Linked DNA regions of Homo sapiens: all the other regions are linked to region 3. The links come from fine-mapping of genetic effects on gene expression. A gene starts in region 3. Each other region holds a variant in brackets. All regions are shown on one strand. Distances are between the middles of the regions.

Region 1 (5,132 bases), 810 kb after region 3:
ACATCTGAAAGAAAAAAAAAACGTAATGACTCTTTCTTACACACAGAACATGCACTTAAAATTGTCAAAACTCTCCATCTCCAGCATTAAAACAATCATCTTTCAAGAACAAAATCCTTTCTCAGTGTCTCTCAGCCCACAAGCCATGAGAATGTGTCTCCATTTCAAAACCCAGTCTGTACCGTCATGCTTCCGCTGTTTCTCAGCAAGCTGCCTTTCTTTGTAACTTTTTTCTTCCAAATCTGATTGATAGTGAAGCTGGAGCCTGAGATGTAAATTAATAAACCACACCAGGAACTCCTTGCATGGCAAAAGCTGAACAGTACAAATCCATTGTTTTCCTGGATGTGAAATGCCAGTCTGTTCTTGCATGAGCAAACTGGATTAAAGTCACTTTCCTTGGGGCCTGCGGATTTCACAAGGAGAACTGCATCTGAGCAGGACACTTCTTTAAGATGTAGCTTCAAAATGTTTGGGACATTGGACACAATAGTCCTAAGCTGAGTATTCAGGCCGGACTATGGGTGCAACTGGTACTGCCCTGACGAGGGGCCACACAGCTCTAAGTCCTTCTTTGTTGCCCCATGTGCCTTGAATGGATGTTTTCTTATAGGAAGCGGATGAACAAGTTAACACAGGATCTGGCTGGGCTGCTTACTAACTATGTGATCCTGGGCAAATCATTTAATTTTTCTGAGCTTCGGTATCCTGATCTGGAGAATGGAGATGCGAATTTCTATATTGCAGTGGTTGTTAGGGTCATATGTAATGCAGTCTGTAAAAACAGTGGGTCACTTTTAAAGCACTATGTGAATGTTTGGTGTTTTATCAGCTGGATCAGAACACTGGAGTGCTTTTGAGGGAGAAGGCCAAAATGAACTGAAAAGTGATGGGAAGTGTACTCTGTGAAATAGTCATAGCTTCCATTTTTGGAACACTTAACGCATGGCAGACACTATGCTATGTGCTTCACATGGACTTTCTTGGCATTCACAACCACTAACATGGTTGGTGGTGGCATCTTCGTCTTTCAGAAGAGGGGCTAGAGACTTAGAAAGGGTACATGACTTCACTTCCTCTTGGTCACAGAGCTGGAGTGGCAGACTGGGACTCAAACTCCAACATGCCTGATTGCCAGCCCAGGCATTCAGCCAGCACTCTTTACTGCTCTGTCCTTTATACCATTCAGCGCATCTTCACATGGACCTCTGAACAGTCACTGGCCCCAAGTCTCAGGGTTTCATCAGTAAGTACATGAGTAAACCATGAAAGCCAGCTTTGGTCATGAGGAGTAGAAGTAGCACCAAATAGCTCACCAAGAGAAAGGGAGAAAAATTGGAAATTAGCACAATTTGGCTTGCACTGAATGGTCAGAAGACCTGGACCCTCCACCACACTTCTGACATGCAGTGTGACCTTAGGCCAGTCCCATCTTCTCTAAAGCTTCATTTTCCCACTAACCTTAAAGAAGTTCAAGTCAAAGAGCACAGTGATGAGTCCCACAGATCATGCTTGAGATGGTGACAGTGTTAAAATACTGACTCCAAAATACAGCCTGGCAGTTTATCTTCTCGAGTTTCCTGTTTCTATGACACTGTACGGTGAGATGGCCAAATGCAGACTCCAGAGCCAGAATGCCAAGCTCTGCCACCAGCTCCTCACACAACCCTGCACAAATCACTTTAACTCTCTGTGCCTCAGTCTCCTCATCTGTAAAATGAGGGTAATAGGCCGGGTGCGGTGGCTCACGCCTGTAATCCCAGCACTTTTGGAGGCTGTGATGGGCGGATCACGAGGTCAAGAGATTGAGATCATCCTGGCCAACATGGTGAAGTCTCGTCTCTATAAAAATACAAAAATTAGCTGGGCGTGGTGGCATGTGCCTGTAGTCCCAGCTACCTGGGAGGCTGAGGCAGGAGAATCACTTGAACCTGGGAGGCGGAGGTTGCAGCAGTGAGACGAAATCGCGCCACTGCACTCCAGCCTGGCGACAGAGTGAGACTCCGTCTCAAAAAAAAAAAAAGATGGTAATAACTGGACCTAGCACATAAGGTTGTTGTGAGGATTAAATCAGGTAAATATGATGAAGCCATCTGAACCAGTGTTAGCACAATGTAAATATTCAGTAAATGGTAGCTATGATAATAAAAGTAATACATTAGTTTTCAATAAGCACATTATAAACAGAGATGTGGCTAAGAGATCCACCACAGCTGGTAAATGGAGAGGGTGCAGAGATCCTGCTGTCACATGCTTTGCCATACATTGACATATTCTGGAGTAACTGACTGCAAAGCTGAAATGGCATCCCCAACTGAATTTACTGAAATTCATATATTTAATATTTTTGACTGCCTTCTCTTCTTCCCAGTCTAAGACCTGAATATGGGATCTATACCCTTGTTTTTAAGCAGGAGTTCATGTTATAGATTCTTCCTGACCGTAAACCGGGAGTTGGGTGGTTGAGAGAAAAAGAGTAGAGATCAAATACTAATGATCATTTAAAAAAACATATCAGGCTTGTCAGGCACGGTGGCTCACACCTGTAATCCCAGCACTTTGAGAGGCTGGGGCAGAGAATCACTTGGCCCAAGTTTGAAACCAGGGCAACACAGGGAGACTCTGCCTCTACAAAAGAAATTTTAAAAAACTAGCCAGGCGTGGGTGGTACACGCCTGTGGTCCCAGCTACTTGGGAGGCTGAGGTGGGAGGATCGCTTGAGCCTGGGAGGTTGAGGCCGCAGTGAGTTGTGATCACACCACTGTACTCCAGCCTGGGCAACAGAGCAAAACCCTACCTCAAAAAAGAAAAAGAAAAATGTACTGAGGAATCATCCAGGGACAAAATAAAACTCCCTTGAGGTTGACTTATAAGCAGAAGCCTCTACTTACGTAGGTGTAAAAGCAGTCTGTTAACAGATATTTTCCAGGCACAGAAATCCTCAGGAGGCATTTGTTCAGAAGACCTGCACCTGGAATTTAAATGACAGTATGAGCTCCTAGGAAATCTCCTGGAGTAACAGCAGAAGAAAAAGTCAGTTGTTTTCTCGTAAACATGTTTCTCCACCAGTGTCACCAACAGATGCATTTTTAAAAACA[A/G]GAAATAGAAAGCACCTTCTCTTTCCTGCTTAAGACACACAGGTTGGGAAAGTTCCTGTACAGTGAGCAACACATGCCCCCTCATGCTGGTGCTCTGTGCGGGAGAAAACGTGAGGTGTGGCCGTTGCTAAGGAAACCGCTGACACGAGGCAGAGCAGCAAGGTTTGCTCAGCAAGGTGTCTTAGGAAATAAAACACAGTCTAAGCCTATAGATCCCATCACAGAAGAAAGGCAGGCAAGGATCCCGCACAGGAGACGGTAGAAGGCTTCTATTTTCACAACTGATTCTGCAGCCTCGTGCTGTAGCAGTACAGGCTGCAGAAGGTTTGTGGAGGGGAGCGCCGGTCTGCAAGGACGGTCTGTGACGGCTTCAGAATCAGGTGGAGGGCAACTGAGAAGAATGGAAACCACCTCACATTCTCTCCTACCTGGTCTAACTTTACAGACGAAATGCATCTTTCAGCTGCATCACAAGAGAGGAAGCCAAGGTCGTAGGGTCTTCATTTCTGAAAACTGATTGTTCAAGTAAATCCTTCAGTCGTCCCCCTGATGCGACCTGCTAGGGAAGCTGGGAGTGCCTTCACAGTGGCTCCAAGGGGGTGTCCTTATAGGGGATTACATCTCAAGACACATTTTACCCAGCAAGAGGCTGCATGACTCAGCAGTCTGATGAAGAAAGCTCTGTTAAGTTACCACCAATTGCAATTTCTAAGTTAATGATTACAGCTCCACCGAGGAACCAGAACACAGCTGAGGCCACAGAGCATTCCCCGTGCTTACTGGCCAGTGGGGATGATGTTGCCCAGATGTGTGGGTCGGAGCTGAATGGTGAAGACAATGATTTGTGATTCGCAGGTGGACTCTTTAAGCCAGGTGCTACTGAACATGCTCTTCAGTGACTGGGAAGCTCTCAAGAAAGATGATATCACAACAGGAACAGATTATGTTGGGAAGATTCTTGAGAGTTGAGATTAAAATCCAAGAGGAGCTCGGCCAGTAAAATAAATGGTCAGAAAAAGCCATTTGATACTGTCCTACAACAGAAAATACATCTAAAAAATCAAGCTGAGAAGTACAGATGGGAAGGAAGAGGCAGTGGGGTAAAACAACAATCAAACCAACGTGAAGCTACCGAACACACAGAATTCTGGAATATTTAAACACTATCATAATAGCATGTTTCCAAAATTGTCTGATTATAAAAATGGGTATAGAAAACCAACGTCAGACAGGAGCTCTTTCATTTTTTTCTTTTTTTTTTTTTTTTTGTGAGATAGTCTCACTCTGTCACCCAGGCTGGAGTGCAGTGGCATGATCTTGACTCATTGTAACCTCCGCCTCCTGGGTTCGAGCGATTTTTTCTCATGCCTCAGCCTCCCAAGTAGCTGGAGTTTTAGGCGTGTGCCACTACACCCAGCTAATTTTTGTATTTTTAGTAGAGATGGGGTTTTGCCATGTTGGCCACGCTGGTCTTGACCTCCTGACCTCAGGTGATCCGCCCACCTCGGCCTCCCAAAGTGTTGGGATTATAGGTGTGAGCCACCGCGCCCAGCCCTCTTTCACTTTTCAACAGTAACTGAAGTCTGTGTCAGATTGTGAGGAACACCTGTCTGCTGCTTTCTGGAAGCTTTCAGTATTTGAAAAAGTGGCTAGGGAAGCTGCTGGGAAGTCCTTCAATTAACCTTAAAAAGCATGTAATAAAACCTAATTATAGAGCATGCTTCTTTCATCCTCTCTGTCACTCCTTTAGAGAATGTGGTGACTTTCTAAGCCACTGTCCCTGCAACCTCCTAGGATTTAGATGTATGAACATTATTTACAGATGGGAAAAACAGAGCACTGAAAGTTTTGGTCAAGAAAACCGTACGGGTTAGTGATGGGGTTTCTCAATTGTGAAGACCTGAGCTTGACAAATGCATTTTCAGCTTCCCAGGATACCCCTGGCTCCTCAGTGAGCACTGGAAGTTTGTCCCTTCTATAGCAGCCCTTGGCAGTTCCAGTCTAGGGGCAGAAGCCAGCCTGCCACTGCAGAGA
Region 2 (5,132 bases), 66 kb after region 3:
TTAAAGCATAATAAGCATATTAACATTTTTAAGCAAAAGATACGTTAACAGTGACCTTTGGTTATCCACAGTAGCAAGAGTAAAGCACAGATCATTGAAATCCATAGATAATCAGTGAATCAACTTTCCTACCAAACAATAGATTCATTTACATTTCTTTTTCCTCCCTATCCTTTCCTGTAAGCACCTGTTTTTCCATGGAATGGGGTTAATGAGTAGGTAGAAAAGGAAAAGGAATAATCAGTAGGAGCTGACAACCAGTGACCATATAAGCAGCTGATTGCCTGTAATTAGTCAGGCTGAACAATTAGAGTTGAATGCTGAAATTAGGAACCACAGGTGGTAATCCTGAGTAGATGTAGCTCTTCAGCGTCATCTCCTGCCCTGAGCTCCAGGCCATCTCTCTAACCACCAAAGAACTCTTAGTACCTACGGGAAGGAAAAGCTGTGTGCGACACAGAGGAAACTCCATTATTTGAACACATTTCTTTGGCTCTTGACAAATACTTGCTTTTCCTCTAATCTTGCAAGAGCTATGGCTCTTCTATTTTCCAATCACACAGCTTGGCATGTAGGAAAGGTTGAATGATCCTCTAAGACTGTGTTGGTCTTCGTATTCTGTAAAACCCATTTTTTTTTTGTGGTCTTACAGATGTTTAGAAAGTGGCACAGGTTACTGAATTGTCTACCTGCCAGCATTCTGATATAGCACAAAAAGCTATTTTCCTTTATTTTTTGTATTATTTTTTATTTTTCTGGCATTGAGCTCTAGGGTGGATGAGGGTTTATGGTCCTCTGATCATAAGCTCCATTCTAAAAACTGGTCACTGTTAGCTGAAATTGCTTTGGTTCCCCAAATGCCTTGGAACTCCAGACGCACCCGCAGGGCCTGAGGTAGGCTTCATAGAGTTCTAGGACTTCCGTGTGCGTTGCCACCAGATCCTGCCCAGCAATGGCCTTTCCCTTCTAAGGTCATTAGATTCAGCCAAAAGCGACCTCTTCTCTAGTCCGGTGTTACGAACAGAAGTTCTGAGTTGTGCTACAAAAGTAGTTCCATCTTTTTGGTGTAATTTTCATGTTTTTAATTTGAAAAAAAAAAAAAAAAAAAAACAACTTTTTATAAGTTTTTTAAGGGCCCTGCTTAGTCAGTGTACAGGGTGGAGTCAGAGGCAGTTTTCAGAAAAAAACAAAAAACAATTTCACCAAGCGGTAGTAATTGTTGTTTTACTAGTTATACATTTAGAATATAAAGGAGGCATCAGAAAACACACTCTCTAAAGCCACTTCCTTGTGCACAGAGTCTGCACAGGGAGAGCACAGGCATCTCCCTGGAAAAGCACCTGCCAATGACGAATTTCATGGAAGAACCTAGGCAAGAAAGGAAGCCTCTTTCTGAGACACAGTCTCTGAGAGGTGAGCCTAGCTTTGCTCTTCCTACAGGGTATGCTTGGGCCATACACAATGCTCGCCTTACTTTAAAGCTATTTTGCCACAGTCCTGTTAAATAGTGTGGACGTCCTTTTGCAGTCTGGTGTGCATGCCATATGATCAGGACAGCTTTTCCACTTTACTCGGTTTCCTACAAGCAAGTAGGAAATACAGTGAATTTACCCTAAAATGTCCAATCTGTATTTATGTACCTTGTCAGTGTTTTGCTGTTGGTTTTCTAAAACAATCTGATCAATAAATCTTATCCAAATCAATTTGGTTCAAGTTCACCTTGATTGTCTAATGGTAATTTGTGTGTACGTGAGCGCACCTATATGACAGAAGCGTCAGTCCTACCCACCTCCACCAGGCTCAGCTTTTCTCTGTAATATCTGTGAGTCATCTGCCTTCCACCCCCACTCCACTGTGGGTTCTTTATCTGCTCATTATCTGGAACTCCTGGACACACAAGAGTTCCCTCACCAGCACACTGCTCCCTCCACAAAGACATCAGCAAGGGAGCAACTGTCGGGCAGCCCACACTCCCTCTCAC[T/C]GCCCCACCCCATGTTCCCCAAACCACTGCTAGACAAGTTTGTATAGGTATATCAAGACTTTTCTGAAGGGTTGGAAGAGCTACAGAGAATTCAAAGGGAAAATGTGAACCCGTATATATAGTCATCTGACTGTCTTTATGATCTGAGGGAAGAGCCCCAGGAGCTGCTGAGCCCTGTGCAGGGGTCCTCTGGGGGTGAAACTACACTTCCTAGCTCTGCCCTTGGTCTTCCAGATGCTTCCCTCACCAAAACAAACCTCTGTTTTATGATGCTGTGATCTCTAATCCTCTAATCCTTCTCCATGCAGTGCTTTTCTCCATGTCTGTGTAGTCCAGAGTAGGTAGGGAAGGATACTCCCAAGTCTGGTCACTTTTAAGGTCTCCCTTCTAGAACTGAACAGATGCCTTGTATTTTTCAGTGTTTCCATTGGTTAACTATTGGATCAAACACACCTTCCATGGACAAATAATCTTAGATATTACAATATACATCTACAAGGAAGAAGAGAAACAATTTCTACCCATTCATCCACCTTACAGTTAATACTTTATTATGCAGAGCAGTCTTCTTTCCTTGGGTTTATTTCTCCTAACTATACTCCTCTCCAAGCTACCAGATATAAGAAATGCACCCTATACCTTTCAGTCTTCAGACCAGCCAGAGCTTTGAAATGGACTCTTATGTGCATCTGATTTGGTTCTTAGATAAGGCATCTAAGACCCATCTTGGCCTAGTGGGAGGAGTTTCAGTGGCCTAGTTGGTTTGCGTGGTTTTGTTCTTCCAGTTTATGTGTATATAATTCTAGTTTGTTAAAATGATGTTGTTAAGCTACTTTAACAACAACCACATTCTCTTGTAGTTAATCTTCTGCAGTAATTGCTTGAGGGAAGAAAACATTGGTAAAACCATCCAGTTTCCCTACTGCCTTCAAATGAAAGGCCAGGTTCTAGCCCAGTGCTAGAGCAATAAAGCTTTCTGCAATGGTGGAAATGTTCTGTATCTGCACCACCCAATATGGTGGTAGCCACAAGCCACATGGGGCTTTTGAGTACTTCAAATGTGGCTAGTATGGCTGAGAAACTGAATTTTTAATTTGATTTAATTTTCATGTATTTATAGGGAAATAACCACACATGGCTAGTGGCTACCTCTTAGTGCAATTCTAGGAAGAGATGACCTGGGGGTTAGGAGACAAGGGCTCTGCTCTTGGCTCAGTCCATAATAGCCCTGTTCTGTATGCAACTTGCTTTTCTTTGGGTCTTGGTTTACTTATCTGTCAAATAGGAGGAGGTTGGCTAGATAATCCCCAAGATCTAACATTATTTAGGATGTTTGGCCAAAAAAGGCTGCAGCATAATGGTGAGTACCATAGGTGTGCAGTGCTAGGACTGGAGTTACCTCTTAAACTCGATCCTGATCTTAAGATCACTGATCCCACCGTGGTGGGAGGTCTGCTGCCCGCTCCAGGTGGTTCCTTAGTGAGTGGCACAGTCAGGATTTCCACTTGCATAGTGCAGGCTCCAAGAAAAAGTATTGAAAATGGAGTAGGGACTAGAACACGGCCACTGCCAAGCCACCTGTAACCCACTGGTTTCAAAACCATGATCCATACTTGTTAACAATACAGATTCCTGGGCCCAAACCCCAAGGATTATATTTTAATAAGTGTGTAATTTTAATAAACTCTTTCATTGATTCCAATTCAGCTGGTTTAAGACATTTGGGAACCCCTGACCCACAGCTGAGCTAACTGGCCAGTGCCGGCCAAGATGAGAGATTTTGTTACCTTACTTTTTATTGTCATATTTCATTGTCCAGCAGGAGACTTCACTGCAAAGGCCAGAATGAACATTTCCCAATCCTTGCCCATTAGAACTCAGTGGCAGACCGAGTACACAGGTATTCTCCGCTCCTTCTTGGAGAACCACTAAAATAATAACAAAATGGCCCTAGTTTCCTTTTCTCTGAAATGGGGCTAACAGTAGTAACCTCTCTCCATACTAGCTACTTATTTCATACTGTGTGGCTGAAATAAGTAGATATGGGTAAGGTACTTCAAATGACGCCTGGCATATAGTAAGCATTATGGAGATATTCACTGTGATTGCTCTCTAGTTGATGGAATAAGAAATAAAACTGAAGGCTGGGCATGGTGGCTCACGCCTGTAATCCCAGCACTTTGGGAGGCTGAGGTAGGCCGACCACCTGAGGTCAGGAGTTCGAGACCAGCCTGACCAACATGGAGAAATCCCGTCTCTACTGAAAATACAAAATTAGCCGGGCGTGGTGGCGCACGCCTGTAATCCCAGCTACTTGGGAGGCTGAGGCAGAAGAATAGTTTGAACCCAGGAGGCAGAGGTTGCAGTGAGTCAAGATCACACCATTGCACTCCAGCCTGGGCAACAAGAGCGAAACTCCAACTAAAAAAAAAAAAAATTTACTAAAAATTACAAAGTTAACCAATAAAGAAGAAACTAAATGTAGGACGAGGGAGGGAGGGTGGTGATGCAAGTGAGCTGAGTCCTGCTCTCCATAGCAGGAAGGGGATAAACAGAATGTCTCAGATTGAAGCAACAGCCAGGTACACGTGTAAATTAGAGAGTAATGGTGGATATCAGGCCAGACATGGTGGCTCACGCCTGTGATCCCAGCACTTTGAGAGGCTGAGATGGGCAGATCACCTGAGGTCAGGAGTTTGAGACCAGCTTGGCCAACATGGCGAAACCCCATCTCTACTAAAAATACAAAAGTTAGCCGGGCATGGTGGTGGGTGGCTGTAATCCCAGCTACTGGGGAGGTTGAGGCAGGAGAATTGCTTGAACCTGGGAGGCGAAGGTTGCAGTGAGCTGAGATAGTGCCATTGCACTCCAGCCTGGGTGACAGAGCAAGACTCCATCTCAAAAAAAAAAAAAAAAAAAAGGTGAGTATCCAAAAAAAAAAACAGCTGCAAGAGCTCATGGTAGTAAGACAGGTGACGACACAGAGGGGCTGTGGCAGTGACTGCTGGTTTTTGAGTGTGATCCTGATTTTTTGTTTTTTTTTTACTTTTTCCGCCTTCCTAAAGCAGAACCTTCTGTAGCTCTTTCAGTCTAGCTCTTCTTCAGAATATGGCGAGTCTGAGTCTCTTCTGACCACATAAGACGGGGCGAT
Region 3 (5,130 bases):
TACTAATCATTCTTAAAGGTTCCACTTCTCCAGATTGTTGCATTGGGGATTAAGTTTCCAACACATGAACTGTGGGGGACACATTCGAATCATAGCAGTTACCCATATAGCTACTGAGCCAAATCTTGGGACTACTAAAACTTTTTATGTTATGTTATGTTATTTTATTTTATTTTATTTTTATTTATTTATTTTTTTTGAGACGAGTCTCGCTCTGTTGCCCAGGCCGGAGTGCCGCGGCGCTATCTTGGCTCACTGCAACCTCCGCCTTCCAGGTTCAAGCGATTCCCCTGCCTCAGCCTCCAGAGTAGCTGGGATTGCAGGCGCGGGCCGCCACGCCAGACTAATTTTTTTTTTTTAAATATTTTTAGTAGAGACGGGGTTTCACCGTGTTAGCCAGGATGGTCTCCCTCTCCTGACCTCGTGATCCGCCCCCCTCGGCCTCCCAAAGTGCTGGGATTACAGGCGTAAGCCCCCGCACCCGGCCATTGTATGTATGTATGTATGTATGTATGTATGTATGTATGTATGTATGTATGTATTTTTGAGACGGAGTCTTGCTTTGTCGCCCAGGCTGGAGTGAAAATGGCACGATCTCGGCTTACTGCAACCTCTGCCTCCCGGGTTCAAGCAATTCTCGTGCCTCAGCCTCCCGAGTAGCTGGGATTACAGGCACCCACCACCACGCCTGGCTAATTTTTTTGAATTTTTCGTAGAGACCGGGTTTCACCATGTTGGCCAGGCGGTCTTGAACCCCTGACCTCAGGTGATCCACCCACCTCGGCCTCCCAAAGGGTTGGGATTACAGAAAGTGTTAGGATTACAGACATGAGCCATCGCGCCCAACCAAAACTTTATATGTTATTTTCTTATTTCATCTCTCCCAGTTGATTAATTAAAAAGTGTTACTTAAGAATCTACTTTGGCTGGGCGTGGTGCTCATGCCTATAACCCAATGCTTTAGAAGGCCAAGGCAGGAGGATGGCTTGAGGCCAGGAGTTCTAGACTAGCCGGAGCAACAAGGCAAAACCACCCCCTCATCCCCACACACTGCCCTATCTCTACAAATTTGCTTTGCAAATTGGGAAAACAGCATTTCATAGGATTTCTGTGAGGATTAGACAGGTTAAACATGTAAAATGTGTAAGACTGCATTTTGCCTATATACATAAAAAACTGGCCAGACGCAGCAGCTCACACCTGTAATCCCATCACTTTGGGAGGCCAAGGCAGGTGGATTACCTGAGATGGGGAGTTGGAGACCAGCCTGACCAACATGGTGAAAACCCATCTCTACTAAAAATATAATTAGCAGAGCGTGGTGGCACATGCCTGTAATCCCAGCTACTTGGGAGGCTGAGGCAGGAGAATTGTTTGAACCTGGGAGGCAGAGGTTGCAGTGAACCGAGATCATGCCTCTGCACTCCAGTCTCGGCGACAGAGTAAGACTCCGTCTCAAAAAAAAAAAAAAACAGTTAACATATATTAATTTTGGTTTTTATATTTTAGAACCATAGGCTTTTTTTTTTTTCAAGTCTCAAACATTTTCATAAGCAGCGTGCTATGGTGCTAGTGACTAAAACATTTCTGCCTACAGGGACTGGAAGTAGGAAAACAAGGAGGCAGTGCCAGTGGCGACCAGAAATTTGCACACCAGGTACAAAGGGTATTTGTCCTCAGCTCCAGCAGAGTTTCTTTTTTTTCTCTGCAACCATGTAAGGTTCTTCTAATGCAAAAGAAAAAAAAATCTGTCACATCTAAGGACCTTGAAAAGTTTTGTTTCCCTTGAGGAATTTGATATGCTTTTTCCTTATCATTCAGAAACATCAGTGTATAGTATGTTTTCCCAGTCTGCATTGCGCCCAGTAAGTTTCAAGCCAAAATTTCTGTTTAATTTTGGAACAATAGAAACTCCTGATCGGCACATTAAAAATTTTCTTTGATCTTGATCTTCCATACCCGTTGCTGCCTTTTATTTAATTTTACATTTCCTCTTGATTATATATCTTCCAAGCTGATTAAAATTTTCTACTAGCCAAAAGGAGTTTGAGCGAACAAAAATATTTACAGAGCCATCAGCCATCTATGAGAATACCTTTTTCTTGGCATTCCACACACTGCCAGGTGTTATTTGAAAAGTCTTTACTGATGTAATAAACCAGAAATGGTTTCTCATTGGGGTTTTATTTTGTATTTCTAAGATTACAGGTGAGAGTGAACATTTTCCCATATTTGTTAACCAGGTTTAAAACTGTTTGATTGGGACGTGGCTTATACAGGGACAAATGCAGCTAAGCCGACTGAAAGACAAATGAAACCCAGGAATATCTGGTTCTTACATTTTAGCTTTGACTCCGCCCCTGGGTCCCCTCACCTACCCGGACCCCAAGCAAGCCCTTTGTGTGTGTCAACCATCAGTGAATGGGATCTCAATCTGAAAAGCTGGCAGAATACCGTCTTGCCCCCAAATATGTGTATTATGCGTATATCCAGTGTCTGATTGCAATGTTTATGGGAAAAAGTTCCTGAATCCTAACCAAGACTGAGGCACTGGCCGTCCCCGGGAGTCTTTCCGCAGGCGCGGCCTCTGACACTCGGTCTTCGATTGGCCCGCCTGGCCCCGCAGGAGTCGGGGTGACGCCGGCCAGCCCAGAGCGGACGATGAGAGCTAGGAGTGGCTGCTTCTGCCTTTCTCTCCCCCTACTTTTTTTTTTTTAGCCATAGCTATGGTTACCACGTTTCTCTCCGCCTCCCGCCACCTACCAAGAAAACGACTGACCATTGGCTGCCTTTCACCAAGGCGGTAAGTCATTGGTCTCTGGTGGGACCGGGCGCTGCCCCCTTCCCCTGTCTCCTGGGTCTCTGGAGGAGCCCAGGAAGGAGGCTCCGCTGGTTCCGCTGGGTCAGGCGCTGACGGGACCGGGCTGCGGCAATCGTTAGCGGGTCATGTCGGCCGCCCAGGGCTGGGACAGGAACCGCCGGAGGGGAGGAGGCGCCGCCGGCGCTGGTGGCGGAGGTAGCGGGGCCGGCGGGGGCAGTGGGGGCAGCGGGGGTCGGGGGACTGGCCAGCTCAACCGCTTCGTGCAACTCTCCGGGCGGCCGCACCTGCCAGGTGAGTCGTGGGACAGGGTCCTGACCGCTTGCGGGCGGGAAGGTGACTGCTACCTTTTCTTTTTCTCCCTGGCTTGCTTTTCCTTGGGAGGAGGAAAGGCAGGCCCCACGCATAGCAGAGGGACTGGGGATCAGAGAAAAGGGAAGGTGTCTTTGAGGTCAGGGAGGGAACAGGAGCACAGCGAAGAAAAGTATCTGTGCTCTGTTGAAAGCTCTGTGCTGAGAGTTGTGTTTTCTTTTCAAAGGAGAGGCCACTGTCTCATTGACATTTCCAAATGTTTCGGTTACTCGATTCCCAATCTCTTCCCCTTCCGCAGTTTGATCTTGTAAATGAAAGACATTGGCGCCTAGCTGTGGGAAATTATTTCAAAAAGGGTGCCAAGTTAAGGAGAGAAGAAGGAAACGCATTCCAAGGAGTGATTTTGTAAAAACTACACGGGGCGTGTGTGTAAGAGGCATTCTGAAACGGAAGAAAGGGGTGGGGGAGTGTTGGCTGGGGAGTGTATGGGAAAGAGAACCTAGAGGATTAGGGAAAACTAGTTGGATTATTAATATTTTGGAATGTTCAGAGACAGGATAATGGTGTCTAGGTTTTAAGGGGAGAAAGTGAAGATCAAAAATATACTTAGTGACACAATTATGCTGTGTTTACAATATAAAAACAACTGAGAATTGGAAAAATGTACCCAATACAATTATTTGACATTTTGGTCTACAGTGCCCTAGCCTTGAGTTCAGATGCTTTTGAAAACAAAATAAAATCAAGTGGATATGTATGTGTAGACAATTTTAAAGAGGTATGTTTGTAATTGAATATTCAATCTAGTAGAAGGAAGGTAGGGAATTAAATAATGCAGAGAACGTCAAATATCCCACTGGGCAAGCTTATTTTTACTATGAAAAGAACTATCAGGAATGATGTGTTAATTATTCATCGTGTTTTTTGTGAATAATATTGATTATATTAGTGATATATTTGTTTAGCTGATGAGTTTTGAGAACATGATGAATTGGTTTTTATGAATTGTGCTTAAGACTGTACCTTATACTTCTAGTCAAAAATTATTATTTGATTAAATTGAAGATGACAAAGGGAATTTAGCACATTTAATGAGACAATTGCTTATGTTCGTGATGAGGTTGTTGATGTGTGCTAGAAATGTACATTACCCCATTTATATGCATTAAATCGAGGCATTTGTAAGTAGTCATATAATATACCAGAAGTTGGGTTTGAGACGTTAATATCAGACTGGGCATCCTAGAATTGCTAAATATACGATCTTTAACATGAAAAAGAAAAAAGGAGCAATCTTTTTTCTTACTCCCAATTAATAATAAAAACTTAGATTTTTGTGTATTGGCAGCTTAGAAGATGAATCTCTTAGCAAACACTGTCACCAGTTTGCCCTCTACTACCGCAATCTTTAGGTCTTTGATCACGGATTAATTATACCATGGGCTTCAAGTAGGCATTCCTAGGTTCCTAGAACCTGCTTGGTGCACTTCCTCACTTCAACCACGTGATGGCAGTGGAAGCCATGATTTCTGCTAAGGGGCTTCAGTGTAGAGCTATTTCTGCATTCCCTTAGCACACAAGACCAAGAACAGCCATTTATCCGGAGGTAAAGATAAACGTGTCTAAACTGTGAAAATTTGTAAAGCGGGGTCATCAGTCTCTTTTTTCTGCTTCCCTTTTCTCTTGACTGACACTTCATTGCTCCTTTACTCATTCTCAAAATTGGGACACATCTGATACCTCAATGTATTATGTAGTTTGAAATTCTTTCATACCAATTCTTTATTCTGCTAGGTATTGCATTTTAAGCCTCTCCCTTTTCTTGCATTTTGATAGATTTTAAAAGATTTTAGGTGATGGGGAGGAATAGGATGTCTAGGCTTGGTTGACGGGCCTTGGAGATAAAACCTTTTATTTTAAATTTATTTATTTATTTATTTATTTATTGAGATGGAGTCTCACTCTGTCCTCCAGGCTGGAGTGCAGTGTCGCGATCTCGG
Region 4 (5,132 bases), 74 kb after region 3:
GAAGAGGAAAGAAGGCTGTTTCCATGGCAACCCAGGGGATAGGCGCTGTGGCTCTCCGGGATATGCGGGGGTGACTTCAGGGAGAAGAAAAGGCTCCCCGGAAAAGCCACAGGGAGGAAGGACCCTCCCATGCACACGGTGGGGTGCGTTCAGAAGTGGGGGGATGGAGGGAAAAGGAGAGGGGTCAGGCACCCTCGGTGAAGTGGAGAATTGAGCAGGGGCCTGGGGACACAGAGACACATAAGGGCCAGGGGTCATACCGAAAATGCAAGCACACAGGCTCTTCTGGCCACTCAACCCAGGGAGCAGAAAACAGAGGTGCCAGAGCTCTCAGAGATTCCGAAATCCACACCTCTCTGGTCCTTTCCAGAAAACCCTTCCAGGGGGCAGCTCAGCCTGGGGACAACCACAGAAGTGGGACCTGGGCCCAAAGACAGGTGTCACCTGAAACAGGCCACTGTTGTCCGCCTGCAGTATGCTGGGAGGACCAGCTCCCGCTCCACCCTGCTCCCCCTGGGAGGAAGGCTGACCCCTGCGTGGGAGTGTGACTGCTGGAAAGGCATCCTTGCTGCAGCTGTGAGTGTGATGGGACAGCAGAGTCACTCCTGCATGGGATTCTAGGGCTGGGGGTCCCAGAGGGGTGGCCTCCGCCCCTCCTGGGGGCCGAGGACTGTCACCATGTCACTACGGCACTCTCCAGCTGCTGACCAAAGCCCTCGCTAACCGCAGCCCTGCCATACTCTGGGTCTTTCCTCTGGAGCAAGGTGAAGAGACTGCAGCGAGGCGTGGAATTGGGAAGCTCTTCTGGTTTTATTAAAAACTCGTTCCACCACAGGAGTCAGCCTGGCCACTCAGGTGTGGGGCGGGTCTCTCCTCATTTAGCTTTCACCTGCGTGCCCAGGGATAGGAGAAAAACGGCACAGAGGGAGGTTGTAGGGAGTAAGCATCCTGCCCTGGCAAAGCTGAGTGAACGTGGGTAGCTTCAGCCCAGTGAAGCAGCAGCAGGGACGCCTGTGGAAACCTGGGTGGAGGTGCCTTCTGACCTTGGTTTGTCTGGGCCAGGGGGCGAATGCTTCTGGCAGTGGAGCTTCCAGGCCCGGAAAACCCAGGCCTCTTCTCCTCACGTGGGCCCTCAGGTGCTTGTGGACTGCCCGGAGACAGAACAGAACTGAGGGTGGGAGGGCCTGCTTTTGCCTGCAGAACACCCTGAAATGTCCCATTTACCCAGCTCTCTCCAGGGCCCGCACAGTCCAAACTTCTCTGGCCTCAACTCCTACCACTGTGCCTTTGCTCACTCTCGACCAGCCACGGTGGCTTCCTTGCTGCTCCTTGAGCGGTCAAGCGTGCTCCCTCTTTCTGGAGGTCTCCTCCTCCAGTATCCACATGGCTGTGTGCCTGGCCTCCTTCAGTTTTTTAATGTGGTCTTCTCAATGAGGCAGAGCCAGGGCTAGGGTGAGGCGAGTGAGGCAGCAAGGGCTTTCCTGCCCTCTCTGGTTAAAACTGTATAGTCTTCCCCTCTGCTCAGGACTCTCCACTCCCTGTCCTCTTCCCAAAGAATGGAACACCATCTTGTTTAGTACACACCTTGTTTATTGCCAGACTTTCTCCATTGGAATGGAAGTGCCATGAGGACTGGAAACGTCTCTGCCTTGTTCTTGTTCTGTCTGTATTCTTTAGAGCCTAGCACATAGTAGATGCTCAGTGTACGCTGTCAGATGGAGGGGTGGATGGGGGGATAAATGGGGCCATGGGGTCAGTAGGCTGTGTCCTTCCCCAGTTCCCCTTCCAACAAGTGGGAAGTGTGCTGCGGCCTTAGAAGAGGCTGGCAGAGTGGCATAACACACTCCTGGTGAAGCACACGATGTGAGGCACAGAGGTTACAACTAAAAAGAAAAACAGACTGGCCTTAAAAAGATAACGAAGGTGGATGCTGTTACTGCCACCAGGCCCGTAGCCCCAGCCAGGCTTTAAGAGTCCTTCCACATCGACCAGGTGAGGTGGCTCATGCCTGTAATCCCAGCACTTTGGGAGGCCAAGGTGGGCGGATCACTGGAGGTCAGGAGTTCAAGACCAGCCTGGCCAACATGACAAAACCCTATCTCTATCAAAACTACAAAAAAAAAAATAGCCAGGCGTGGTGGCACTTGCCTGTAATTCCAGCTACTTGGGAGGCTAAGGCAGGAGAATCACTTGAACCCGGGATGTGGAGGTTGCAGTGAGCTGAGATCGGGCCACTGCACTTCAGACTGGGTGACAGAGTGGGTGACAAATAGAAAAAAAAAAAAAGAGTCCTTCTACATGACAACTGCTAGCACAATTGGAGAAATTAAATTCATCCTGAGGCCAAGACTCTGCCCGCTAGGAAAAGCAGGGTGGAGGGCAATAGCCCAGGTGTGCTCCCTGCCCCTACCCCACACCAAAGACTTTTGGGGATTGTGCAGGGGCAGTGGCAATGAGGCAGCTCTCTGTGGGTTCAGCCCAAGTGGGATGTGCTGGAGGCCTCCACCACTACCGATGGGCTCAGCCTGGCAGCGCACTGGGAGGGGTTGGGGGAGAGGAAAGAGGGGAGAAGACCCTCTTAGAACCACACTAGCCCTTCTCTCAGACAGGCAGCCCTGACACCTGCACCGGGGGCTCCATGCTCCTGTCTGCTTCCTGTTCCTCGCTGTGTGTAACCAGCAACAACAGGTTTCAAAGTCCATCCATTGAAACCCCCACTTGCAAAGGGAGTCACCTTCAATTTCCTGCCCGCCTGCCTCTTTCCTGATTCACCTGATAAATTCAGGACAGCTTTTATTGCTTTTGGCGAAAAACTGCCATTAAGATTTACAGAGCTGAAAGCTGGTACAATGTAATCTTCAGAGTAATTTACGCAGTGAGTTTCAAAAGATGAAAAGTTAGCATTTCAGAGGTAATTTCATAAAAAGGATTATCAGATTAATCACTGTGTCAATTTAATAGCGGTGTCTCAAATAATTAATTTGCTTTCTTGAAGTCAGCAATGCAAGAAAGGACTCTAAAAGGAATACAAATGGCTGTGTCAGACAGTAAGTATGTGTTGGGCAATTGATCTTGAGAGAATTCTTCTTGGAATTACACCGGTGGAATGTCAGGC[G/A]TGGGCTCATTGGCACAGAGACAAAACCAGAAAGTGAAAAGCTCTTGGTACACCCAGGTCTCCCGGAGAGCCTTGGGACGTGACTGCTGGGGGCTTGTCTGTACCCACAGAGCGAAAGCTGACCTGCCACGTGTTGAATTGTCCTGTGTCACCTGGAAAATGTGTCTAACCAAGCAAGCCACTGACAGGTTGCTCTAATGGGAGATCCAGGTGTGAATTGCAGCCTGCTTGTGAAATTACCCATGGGTGCTCCGAGGTGGAATATAATCAATGCCTGGGCTGGTTATAAACGCAGCCCTCCCTGTTTCATAGCAACACCACTCCAATCAGCTGCCACATGGCAGGGCAGGGCTGTGTCCTTAGTGGATGCTATGGATTGAATTGTGTCCCTCCCATCCCCCCCAAAAAAATATATGTTGGAATCCTAGCCTACAGAACCTCAGAATGTAACCTTATTTGGAAATAGGGTCTCTACAGAGGTAAATTAAAATGAGGTTCACGCCTATAATCCCCGCACTTTGGGAGGCCAAGGTGGGCGGATCACCTGAGGTCAGGAGTTCGAGACCAACCTGGCCAACATGGCGAAAACCCGTTTGTGCTGAAAATACAATAATTAGCTGGGCGTGGTGGTGTGCGCCTGTAATCCCTGCCACTTGGGAGGGTGAGGCAGGAGAATCGCTTGAACCCAGGAGGCAGAGGTTGCAGTGAGCTGAGATTGTGCCACTGCACTCCAGCCTGGGCAACAGAGCAAGACTCTGTCTCAAAAAAACAAAAACAAAATGAGGTTATTAGAATGGGCCTTAATCTAGTACGACTGGTATCCCTATGAGAAGGGGAAATTTGAACCAAGACACACACACAGAATACCACGTGAAGATGAAGGCAGAGATCTGGCTGACACGTCTGTCTATAAGCTGAGAAATACCAAGGCTTGCCACTAGACCACCAGAACCAGGAGAGAAGCGTGGCAGATTCTCCCTCACAGCCTTCAGAGGAAGCTGACTCTGCTGGCACTTTTACCTCAAAGGCCAGGCCCCAGAACTGTGAAATAATACATCTCTCTTGGTTGAGCCACTCAGTGTGCGATACTTTGTTTTTGTAGCCCTAGGAAACTCACACAGTGGGGCCTCGTGGAAAGAGTCGACTTGAGTGTCTTTGTTCTTAATGTTCCTATGTTTCTCTAAACTTTTTTTATACACAGGCTCGGGGCAGAATGTGAAGATAATGACACACCTCAGTAGGAACAAGCATATTCTCTATGTTACTCACTATTTCTTTTTCTTTCTTTTCTTTCCTTTTTTCTTTTTCTTTCTTTTTTTTTTTCTTTTTTTTTTATTGAGACAGAGTCTTGCTCTGTCACCCAGGATGGAGTGCAGTGGTGCGATCTCGGCTCACTGCAACCTCCCCCTCCTGGGTTCAAGCGATTGTCCTGCCTCAGCCTCCCGTGTAGCTGGGATTACAGGTGCCTGCCACCATGCCTGGCTAATTTTTTTTTCTTCTTCTTTTTTTTTTTTTTTTTTTTTTGTATTTTTAGTATAGACGGGGTTTCACCATGTTGGTCAAGCTGATCTTGAACTCCTGATCTCTGGTAATCTGCCCAAATTGGCCTCCCAAAGTGCAGAGATTACAGACATGAGCCACTGCACCCTGCCCACTATACTTTTTCCTAAAGAACTGAAAGAGGGCACAGTGGCTCACACTCAGCACTTAGGGGAGACATGCTGGTGGATCACTTGAGCCCAGGAGTTCAGAGCCAGCCTGGGTAACATGGCGATACCCCATCTCTATAAAAAAAATACAAAAGAGTTTGCTGGGCCTGGTGGTGCACTCCTATAGTCCCAGCTACTTGGGAGGCTGAGGTGGGAGAATCACTTGAGTCTGAGAGGTCAAGGCTGCAGTGAGCCAAGATCACTCCACTGCACTCCAGCCTGGGTGACATGAGCGAGACCTAAAGAAAAAAGACTCACATTCTTTCTCCTGGGGTTGCTGACCTAAGGCTCTGAGCCTGGAGCTGACA
Region 5 (5,000 bases), 28 kb after region 3:
CAGATGCTTAATAAAATGATTGTTGAATCAATACAGGATTGTTGTGAGAATTATATGAGGTAATATATGTGAAAGCTCTTTGTAAACCCTAAACATTATGCAAGTGTTAATTGTTTTTATTGTCAATAAGAGCTATATTTGGGAGCGATCAAAACTTTGGGAAAAGAGATAATTACCCCATAATAGTTCCATTAATTTAATTAGGTTTTTATTCTATTTTATAAGAAAACATATTTTAATTGGGGTTAACATGGAGGTAATTTGCTTCCTGGGAAGGCAGATGAGCCCCTTCCCTCCCTTCCCCCATGGAAGTGCCAAGATATTAAATGTTTGTTTAATTTGGTTGCTGTTTTAAAATTTAATTATAGTAGAGTCAGCTTATTTCGTATTTAAAGAATGGTGCCCATTGCTTTATCTTCTTAACCATATAATTAATATAACCTTGAAGAGAACAGGAGCCTCTGTTATGTCCAATTAGTTTCAGAGCTCCATTTTGAAATTAACTGACTTAAAAATGTCATCGTTTCTAATCTGTTCATAAAGCTCCTGGTGAATTTTTGCCACAAGATGGCATTGGTGATTATTGAGTGCACATGCTATTGAACCAGAATTCCCAAAAACGGTGCACAAAATTGTATTCTTTTGGGGGTAAGAGTTGAAAACCTTCATCACTGCTTATATGTTAATTTAATTTTGACTTCCAAAACAGGGTTAAATGCTACTTTACGTCACTTTCTTTCTGTATTCAAGTATTGTTTTGTTTCCTGTTTTTCTGTCTTTATAACTACAGTAACTATGTATTATTTGCAATGTGTTGTATGTGTCTGACTTATTGCTGATAATTGTGGTAACAGGTAAGAAGAAAATACGATGGGACCCAGTTAGGAGGCGCTTCATTCAGTCCTGTCCCATCATAAGGATCCCTAACAGGTTTTTGAGAGGTGGGTGATAATTAGCAAGAGATCTGTGCTTCGTATGGGTTAAAGGGAACTTTGAATGAATTTTCTAAGCTCAAAACTCTGGTTTTTAAAAATCATCTAAACAGCTAATGAAACAGTTGGAATAAGAAAAATCTAGAACTTAATTTTAAACCTGTTTCTTGTTGGCCACTATTGGGATTGTAATTGTAAGTTTCAGGGAGTCAGAATCACTTAGTGTATTATTAGATGGTAGAGATAAATCATCTCACTGATATAAATGGTATTCCACAGTAGCCATATTAGAAAGAATTTTGAGTGAATAATCTATAAAATATGGATGTGGGAAAGAATTTTCTAAATATGATTCTAAGGAAGAAATAAAAGATTATGTAATGGTATAAAATAAAAAACCTCTTATGTCAAATGTCATATATTAAAAGATAAAAAAGAGAATTATTTGTTAACAAAGGGGTAATATGAATATATAAAGAGTTCTTATAAACCAATAGGTTAAAAACAAATGCCCACTAGAAAAATAGGTAAAAGGATATAGAATTACCAGTTTGTTAAAAAGAAGTGCCAATAATTATGAACAAGTATTTATTTTTACTATTATTATAAACACAACAATTAAAACAATAAGATGTTTTTACCTATTAGATGAGCAAAGACCAAAAATAAGAATACCCAATGTTGGCAAGGGTATGGGAAGATAAAGCTCATATATTGAAGGAAGTATAAATTTTATACAGCTTTTCTGAAACCAGTTTGGTAATATGTATTAAAAACCTTAGAAATATTCATACCCTTTGACCTAGCAGTTTTTACTTTTAGAAATGTTGCATTCCTTCTACTTTTTATTTTTTCTACTAATACATACTCCATACTGAAAAAAGAAAATCTCAAAAGAGGGTTGAAAACTCTGGTTCACACTATTTTTCTAGATACAACAAATTATCACACAAGCATACTTAATGTTGTAATTTAGACTGTATTAAATTATTTACAACCCAGTGTATCTAATTTTAACTGGAGTTTTTTTTTTTTTAACCTAGGAAAAAATCCTGCAACTGCTATAGATGTTTCTATATCTAGTTCCTAACCTATTTTTGTCACCTGAGCTCCAGAGCATGCATAAAATCAACCATAAAATGGGTCAAGATAAGATCCTCAAGATGGTGTACCACCTTTTAGCATGAGTAAATTTTGTTAGTAAGAATTAAGGACCAGGCTGGGTGGCTCATACCTGTAATCCCAGCTCTTTGGGAGGCCAAGGTGGGCAGATTGCTTGAGCCCAGGAGTTCAAGACCAGCCAGGACAACACGGTGAAACCCTGTCTCTGTAAAAAATACAAAAATTAGCTGGGCATGGTGGTACACACTTATAGTCGCAGCTACATGGGAGGCTGAGATGGGAGGATCACTTGAACCCAGGAGGCAGAGGTTGCAGTGAGCCATGATTGTGCCACTGCATTCCAGCCTGGGCGATAGAGTGAGACTTTTCTCCAAAAAAAAGAAAAAAAATTAGATGATTTTAGTATTATCCATTGTACACACATGGCCAAGCAGGCATGTCTAATTCTATAGCATTTTTTCTTTTTTCTATTTATAAGTTAGAATGCCAATTTACCAATTTCCAATGAGAAATCTAACTTGTGCTGAATAAAGCATAAATTAAACTTCATTTTAGTTATATTAATATAATTAATTATACATACTAAATATAAGCATAATTAAGGAATTGTTTAGGATATATAATTCAACATAATAATGATATAAAACACATAAACATAAAAAACAAATAGTGACATAACAGGTTGTATCTGTATGATGGGGATTTTATTTTCTTTTGTATGGTGTTTGTTTTTCAATTTTTTGATTGTGGAGAAAAAAGATTGCACAGGTAAGTTTTATACCATTGGTTATTTGTAAGCCCTCAATAGCCTCAATCAGTGGTTGAGAAAGGTGGCCCCTGGCAGTGCTGGAATTGAGGTGGGAGTTAACTCAGCATCAGCAACATCAGGATCACTAGTG[G/A]CCTTCTTTTAGTTCTCACCTTCTTTAACCTCTTTGTAGTGTTTGAGGCTGTTGACTACTTGCCCTTCTTAAATTTTTCTCTTTTTTTGGGTTGCTTTACTGTATAGTTCTAGATGTTTTCTTCCTACCTCTTTGATTGTTCATTCTGTTTCCTTCACTAGCTTCTTTCTTCCTGCTCCCTCAAGGTGGATATTGTTCCAGTGTTCTGTCCTCTCCATTATCTCCTTTAGTTGTCTCATCAACTTTCACAGGCTTAAGTCTCTTCGTTTGTTCGTTCGTTCATTCTTTCATTCTTTCAGTATTTCTTGATTGCTTCCTATGTACTGTGCTAGCCTGATGATCTAAGTAATAGAGAATCAGGTAAACAGACAATTACAGAATAATTTGAGTATAATTATTTGTGGTAAGTGTTCTGATGAGGTAGCATGCTATGGGAGCACACAGGAGAGGTATCTGACTCAACTTGGCTGAAGGAGGGTGACAGAGGAGTGGCCATGAGGATGACATCAGAAGGGATGTGCTTAAAGGCTGAGTAGGTGTCAGCAAAGGAGGGTTGGATCCTCTCAAACCATGGGGATCAGGCAGCTTGAGTAAAGGCATTTAGGCAAAACAGGACATGGTGTTTTTAGAGATGTAGAGAAAGTTCAGCACAGTGGGAAAGAGGTGGACAAAAGAGGCTGGAGAGGGCCCAGATCAAGTGGGCACCACCCAAGTGGAGTTTTCAGGATCAGATTTGGTTTTTTAGCTAGTGAAGAAATTTAATTAAAGGCTAATTATGAGATTATTATAGTTATTAGTGTGCAAAATGATGGAGACTGAAATGAGGGTAGTTGTAATAGGAATGGAGAATAGGGGCCGGGCATGGTGGCCTACACCTGCAATCCAGCAGAGTGAAACCCTGTCTGTCTACATACACACACATGCACGCATGTACAATTAGCCGGGTGTGGTGGGGGCATGCCTGTAGTCCCAGCTACTTGGGAGGCTGAGGCAGGAGGATTGCTTGCAACTAAGAGTTCGAGGCTACAGTGAGCTATAATCATGCCACTGCATTCCAGCCTGGGTGAAAGAGCGAGGCCCTGTCTCATTAAAAAAAAAAAAAGTAGAGAATTGATTTGACATATAAGGAAGTGGAAGTGAAATTAGATGTAGATTTTAGGCAAAGGATAATAAATTCAGTTTAGTCTCTCCAGAACAACCAATAATAGCATTAATAGCATATCCTTTAACACTCAGTCCAAGAGTATTTCCAGGGAAACTTCCTTGGCAGGCCTCTCCCCTCTTTGTTCTGATGGCACCCTCCGTGTACCTACCTATATCATAGCACTTATTGCACTGAATTGTAGTTGTTTACTTGTCTGTGCCTCCCATTAGACTGTAAGCTCTGTAAGGGCAGGGACAATAGGACAGTGCCTTTCATATCTTTACTCCAGTTTGTAGCATAGTGCATGTAGCAGGTATATCATATGTATTTGACCTTGAATTAAAGTATTGTAAAGGCCACTGTCAGAAAATAGGATGGGAGTAACATTTTATTATGTTCTCAACTTCTCTCTGGTATTGGTGACAGTGAACTAATGAATTGTTGAGAACATGAAAATGCTATTGTTTAATGCTTCAATAGGTTGTGTGGTTTTGCTTGTTTGTTTGTTTTTAACTTATCTATACTTTTGAAATAGCCACTTTGAAGCCTGATATTTTGGAATTCTTTATATCACCTCTCTTGGTTCAGATTGTAGACAGTTTCATAGGGCCCATTTTCTGTCACTAGATTCCTCTTCACTAGGTCCTACATCTTCTCTAAAACATATTTCTACCAATTAAAATTGTGGTGTAGTGAAAACAGTAATGGCGTAATGAAAACAATGGTTTTTATTATAAAATGGCAGACTTAACATACCCATTTACTTTTCCCTACTTCTCAGATGTCATTGGAAATGACAAAACAGACATAAGACAAAGAATAAATCATTGTAATTAAAAAAAAAAAACAAAAAAAACAGAAAAGGGAGACTTTGAAACTAGATTACTTGTGTCTGAATCCAGG

Which allele goes with the higher level. Positions count from the first base shown, and alleles are read on the strand shown. Sizes are in standard deviations (SD) of each study's normalised expression. Not every link is listed here.
With allele A in place of G in region 4, the expression in lung of the gene that starts at base 2,837 in region 3 is higher (small effect, 0.22 SD a copy in GTEx).

What was found.
Region 1: its variant is fine-mapped to the expression of KLHDC10 in whole blood (TOPMed, PIP 0.99).
Region 2: its variant is fine-mapped to the expression of KLHDC10 in whole blood (INTERVAL, PIP above 0.99).
Region 4: its variant is fine-mapped to the expression of KLHDC10 in lung (TOPMed, PIP above 0.99).
Region 5: its variant is fine-mapped to the expression of KLHDC10 in whole blood (TOPMed, PIP 0.95).

The regions. Positions count from the first base shown.
Region 1 is chr7:130,881,426-130,886,557 of GRCh38, forward strand. It overlaps LINC-PINT (long intergenic non-protein coding RNA, p53 induced transcript), which reads right to left. Exons shown (of 8, transcript NR_170176.1): 7 at 2,892-2,971; 8 at 1-1,311. Among named protein-coding and RNA genes, the nearest start is that of MIR29B1, 6.5 kb to the left of the region's middle. RefSeq lists an enhancer at 5,052-5,132. The variant A/G (reference allele first, on the strand shown) is at 3,099.
Region 2 is chr7:130,134,003-130,139,134 of GRCh38, forward strand. It overlaps KLHDC10 (kelch domain containing 10), which reads left to right. Exons shown (of 10, transcript NM_014997.4): 10 at 1-1,703. Among named protein-coding and RNA genes, the nearest start is that of LINC03008, 5.2 kb to the right of the region's middle. The variant T/C (reference allele first, on the strand shown) is at 1,982.
Region 3 is chr7:130,067,698-130,072,827 of GRCh38, forward strand. KLHDC10 (kelch domain containing 10) reads left to right here and starts at 2,837. Exons shown (of 10, transcript NM_014997.4): 1 at 2,837-3,112. The coding sequence starts at 2,947. RefSeq lists enhancers at 2,352-2,551, 2,582-2,771 and a silencer at 2,872-3,041.
Region 4 is chr7:130,141,785-130,146,916 of GRCh38, forward strand. It overlaps LINC03008 (long intergenic non-protein coding RNA 3008), which reads left to right. Exons shown (of 2, transcript NR_149034.1): 2 at 475-834. Among named protein-coding and RNA genes, the nearest start is that of LINC03008, 2.6 kb to the left of the region's middle. RefSeq lists an enhancer at 1-508. The variant G/A (reference allele first, on the strand shown) is at 3,116.
Region 5 is chr7:130,096,067-130,101,066 of GRCh38, forward strand. KLHDC10 (kelch domain containing 10) reads left to right here. Exons shown (of 10, transcript NM_014997.4): 2 at 855-941. Among named protein-coding and RNA genes, the nearest start is that of KLHDC10, 28 kb to the left of the region's middle. The variant G/A (reference allele first, on the strand shown) is at 2,954.